Linked DNA regions of Homo sapiens: region 1 is linked to region 2. The links come from fine-mapping of genetic effects on gene expression. Tissue or cell type: whole blood. Region 2 holds a variant in brackets; the other region holds the start of a gene. All regions are shown on one strand. Distances are between the middles of the regions.

Region 1 (2,627 bases), 75 kb before region 2:
GAAACCTAGCTATAGTTAATACCCCTGTTGGAACTGACTTTGATTTTTTTTTGAGACAGGGTCTCACTTCCGAGGGCAGTGGCATATCACTGCAGCCTCAACTTCCCGGGGCTCGAGCAATCCTCGTATCTCAGCCTCGCGGGTAGCTGGAACAACAGGCATACACCACCATGCCCGGCTAATTTTTGTATTTTTAGTAGAAACGGGGTTTCACTATGTTAAGCAGGATGGCCTCGAACTCCTGGGCTCAAGGGATCCGCCCGCCTCCACCTCCCAAAGTGCTGGGATTACAGGGGAGAGCCTACCGCACCCGGCTGACTTTGCTTTTTTTTTTTTTTTTTTTAAGGTGTCTCTGCCTGTCTCCCTGTAAGCAATGCACTTCACCACTTTTGCATGCACACGTCCTAGCCATCTTTCAATGTCTAGTACAGCTAGGGGGAATCACTCCACTTTCCACTCATCCTAGGTCGATGTCCTCTCTCCCTCTGTGCACTCATACATGGCCCTTCATTTCCTCTGGACATTTCTGCCTTGAATTCGAGTTACTTCAATCTCCTGCTGTACCCCATCTCCTACCGAGAGAGCTTTTGGACGGAAGGAGTCGGCGTGCACTCAAAAGGCCAGCAAGCGGGAAGCAATCAATAAGCACTTAACAGTTTCCTATCCATCCTTGGTTTAGTTCTTGTAGAGCAAGAATTTCTCTCCTCAAGCCTGCCAGCCCCCGGGGGACAGGGTTTACTGATTTTTAATGTCTCCTGCCCGAGTCCAGGACCCACCACGCGGGCTGTGGGGACCGTCAGTGCTCACCGCCACCAAGGTCGTTATGAACCAAGTGCGGGTCAAGTAACAAGTAACAATAACTAACTAGGGCCGCGGTAGGGCGGCTGCGTATCCGAAATCCCATCTAAACCTCGCGACGATCCTGGGCGGGGGCATCGCACCCTTTTCTGACAAGCAGCAGAGGCAAGCGAAGGGGTCAGTGCCGAAGAGGGGGCCCGTGTCGGTGGGTGACAGACCAAGGCCTCAAACCCGAGTCACCGCCCAGAAGATCTTGGGGCGGAGAGAGTTCCTCACTCGCCCCGCCTCGGCACCAGCCTCTGGAGCGCTGAGACCTGGGGTCCCGGGGTCGCCGGACGTGGGCAGGGTCTGGGGGTCGCGCGCACCCCCGCCCCCTGCCCCGCGCCATCTTGGAGCGCTGTGGCGGCCGCTCCCGACAGCTTCGAACCGTTGCTCTGGAGGTTACTCACCCGCACTGCCCGGAGCCAGGCCCCCTGCCACCTCCGCGACCCCCGCCACGGCCAGCAGAAGGAGCAGCGCACCTCGCAGAGAGGCCCGGACGGTCGCCATGTCCGGGCCGGGCGGCTCCAGAGCCGCGGGATGCTCGGACCCAGCTTGGCCGCAGCCGCTGCCGCCGCTACCGCCGCCGCTCGCGCGAGGCCCCGCCCCCAGCGCCCGGCCCTTTGGTGACTGGCTGCGGCCCGCTCAAGCCCCGCCCCCTGCCTCACAGTGTTTCCAAAACCTCCCGGGGGCGGGAACGTGCCCCGTACCAGGGCTCTTTGTTATGGCCCAACTGTGTGTCGGCTTCTGCCAGGAGTCCACCAGCCCACGTTCTCCCAGAGTGAAGTCAGAGGATGTCAGAGCTGGGAGAGTCATTAGAAAACCTCTGCCACCTCCTGAGGTTTCGGGCCACTGAGGTGAGAGAGGAGACTGACCTTACTCAAGATCACACTGCAAGTTCACCTGAGAACAAGGGCTTAGTCCAAGGCCGAACCAAAGGGGCTTCTCTCCTTCATGTACCCTCAGTAATACTCGCAATATTCTTTCTGCCGAGACGCTGCCTCGCACCCAAAGAAAGCATGTCACCCGGGATCCTTCGGCCTCCCGCAGACACGGCCCCCTGACAAGGGTTCATCACTAGAGCTCTTTGGCACTATAGCCTCAATGTGTCTTTGTTGTACTTTAAAAATTATTTATTTATTTATTTAGGCAAGAGTCGCTCTGTCGCCCAAGCTGGGGTGCAGTGGCGCGATCTCGGCTCACTGCAACCTCCGCCTCCCGGGCTCAAGCGATCCTCCCACCTCAGCCTCCTGAATAGCTGGGACCACGGGCGCAGGTGACCACGCCTGGCTAATTTTTATATTTTTTTTGCAGAGAAGGGGTTTCACCATATTTCTCAAGCTGGTCTCGAACTCCTCGCCTCAAGCAATCCCCCAGCCTCCTCCTCCCAAAGTACGGGGATTGCAGGCGTGAGCCACTGTGCCTGGCCTTGATGTTACTATTAAGCACCTATTCCTGATAGGAAAAGAGGATAGGAGAACGCTTGTATACCTAGATGTGGAAAGCCTTGAATATCCGGCTGAGAAGTATAGACTTTGTCCAAGAGACAAGTTGGAAGTGGGTCCCACCCCACCCATCAGCCCAGCAGCTACGTGGAGAATGTTTAAGCCACTGGCTAGCAAAGCTAATTCATTGTCTCTTTTTTTCTCTGTGTGTTCCTGAATTAAACCCTTTTTCCTCCTTTTTTGAAAAAGCATGACCACCGTTTTAAATTCTCATGAAGACACCTGGGGCTAAATTACTTAAAACATTTTTAAAATTCCTTAATATTATTAAATATCCAGTCATTA
Region 2 (2,756 bases):
ACAGTCGTGGTGATGATGATGATGATGACTACAAGTGATGAAAAAGAGAATCAGGTGTATTGAGACTGAAATCCCAGCTCTGCCACTCACTAGTGATCATTGGTAAATTGCTTAACTTTTTGAAGGCTGTCCCTCAAATGAAAACATCGGGGGATCATACGAATCTCCTGGGCCGACTGAAAGTAGGTGCTCAACACACATGCGTCACATGCATACCGTATATGTACGGTGTTTGTCAGTGTGCCCGGCACATGGTAGCGCTCCATAGATGGAGCTTGTGCTGCTGCTGCTGCTGCTGTTGGAAGACATCTGTCTTGTCAACCATTCTGGATCTCTAGGACTTCAACCTGGGGACAAGGTGCTCTTCCCTGAAGCGAGCACCATCTTTGTTTCTCTGACACCTGAGGGAAAGCTCAGGGGGGAGCCAGCATTTTTGAGGTCTCCTCTCCATGTCCAGTGGCTGGGCCCCTGTCACCACCTCTAATTGGGATGGGGTGTGGTCCCTGGAGCTCCCAGGTATGCATCGACCTGTGCCCTGTGCACATGTGGCACTCCAAACTTTAAATTACTTGTGGGATTAGCAGGGCCCTGGAGTAACTAATGTGTCAGGGGCCCCATAGAGTACACGGTGCGGCTCGAGGATTCCTTCGGCTGCTGGGGAAAACCTACCTTCGGGATTTCTGGGCCTCAGGCCAGGAAGCCAGATCCTCTTCATGAAGAGTCTGGAGCTGGGACAGCAGCATTTAGCCAGCACAGCTGAAAGGAATGAAGTGAGAGAAACACCACCAAAGGCTAAAGTGCCCACACGATTTAAGAGGAAAAAGAAGAAAGAGGGTCTCCCAGGTAAGGCAGGGGCATGTCGGGGGTCTTTCTCTGGCACAGTGTCTAGCCAGGGATCCAGGGAGGAACTGAGAATTGCGTGTGGAATCAGGAGACTCAGAAGCGGCCATCGCGCAAGAAGCAGATGGGGAGAGCTGGGCTGGGGCGGGGGCAGGGATGGGGCGGGGCAGGGATGGGGACATGCCTCTTGCAGGACGTTTGCCTCAGATGCGCTTTCCTCCTCGCCCCGCCTCTGCTTCCAGAAACCTCCCAGCTGCCACTGGTCCTAAGCAGCAGCTGCTGCTGGGGCAGAGAGGAGCTGCTGGGCTCCCAGTGCCCGCCGGGGACCCCATGAACCAAGTCCCCTCCCTGTCCTTGCTGCTCTGTCCCTACGCAAGCCCCGAGGGGGCCTGGCAGGGCTTCCATCCCACTCCACAGGCGAGGAAGGGAGGCTCAGAGGAAAAGCGGACTCCCTCAGGGTCAGGGGGCGAGAGGCAGGTGGGCCTGTACCCAGCCCTGTCTCTAAGCCCACTCTGCGGCTAGCGCTTTCCGTTTCTCTCACCCGCCTCTGAGAAATGCTGAGATTTTTTCTGAATACAAAATAACTCGTATCCATGGTATTCAGAGAAAATTTGGGAAACACTGAAGAGGTACCGAGAGGAATGCTCTGCCCCTATGGATTTTGCTATCTTTTCTTTCCAGTCGCTTTTTTTTTTTTTTTTTTTTTTTTTTGAGATGGAGTCTCTGTCATCCAAGCTGGAGTGCGATGGCGTGATCTCGGCTCACTGCAACCTCCGCCTCCCGGGTTCAAATGATTCTCCCACCTCAGCCCCCGAAGTAGCTGGGATTACAGGCACATGCCA[C/T]TATGCCCTGCTAACGTTTTTTGTATTTTTAGTAGAGTCGGGGTTTCACCATGTTAACCAGGCTGGTCTTGAAATCCAGACATCAAGCGATCTGCCTGTCTCGGCCTCCCAAAGTGCTGGGATTATAGGCGTGAGCCACTGCGCCCGGCCTCCAGTCACTTTCTATCCACATGATTGCTTACCTAATTGAGATCATAATAGTGTGTGCAAGTTTGACCTTGCCCTTTTAATTTATCATTATGCTATAGTAATATTAGCATGGAGAAAATTACCAATAGGACTATGAGGTCTGTCTAATATTCCATTATGTGAAAAGCATGATTTACTTAGGCACTTATTGGTGGAGAGCTGTATTGTTTTCTATTTTCATTCACAAATACTGCTGTGATAAATACCTTTATTGAGAGATCTTGGCCTCCATGCTCACTGATTCTTTAACACATTTCCTGAAGGGAGAACAGCTGAGGTGAGGGGCAGGCAGGTTTTTTGAATTTTTCCTTTTCCTAGGCAAATTTCCCTCCAGAAAGGCTGCATGAGAGTGTATGGCGCTCTTTTTACAGCACCACGTTGCCTCCTACTTCTCATCTGCCTGCTGGCTCCAGAACAGGTAGAGACAAGACCATGAGCCAAGCCAGGTCCCTGGGACAAACCAAGGCTCCATGCCTGCAGGAAGCGGCCACTGAGCCCAAAGCTTCCCCTCTTCCCCTTGCTCTCCCTAGCTGCCTCCCACCTCCCCGCTTCTCTCCCTCCTCTTATGGGGCTGCAGGTGCCAGACCTCTTTGTTTGCTTTCATTCTGAATCCCTTCCAAAACCTGACATAGCTCTACTAACTGTTGAATGTTTCTTGATGGACAACCAGGAATTCAGATCTCCCCTTCACACAGACACACACACACACACACACACACACACACCCCTCACATTCATCAGTGTGGGCAGCCACCTTCATCAAGGACCGCTCCCTGCTTGCAGAGGTCAGCACTGGAGGGTCCACGACAACCCTCAGAGCTGGGATGCCCTGGGAAGCAATTATTCAGCCTTCTCATGGAGCACATGGGGAAACTGAGGCCTAGG

Evidence for each region. PIP is the estimated chance that this variant, and not a neighbour inherited with it, causes the effect.
Region 1: RECK starts here. The variant in region 2 is fine-mapped to the expression of RECK in whole blood (INTERVAL, PIP above 0.99).

Annotation. Positions count from the first base shown.
Region 1 is chr9:36,035,719-36,038,345 of GRCh38, reverse strand. RECK (reversion inducing cysteine rich protein with kazal motifs) reads right to left here and starts at 1,433. Exons shown (of 21, transcript NM_021111.3): 1 at 1,248-1,433. The coding sequence starts at 1,347. RefSeq lists silencers at 1,154-1,303, 1,314-1,513.
Region 2 is chr9:35,960,648-35,963,403 of GRCh38, reverse strand. No RefSeq gene overlaps it. Among named protein-coding and RNA genes, the nearest start is that of OR2S2, 3.9 kb to the right of the region's middle. The variant C/T (reference allele first, on the strand shown) is at 1,683.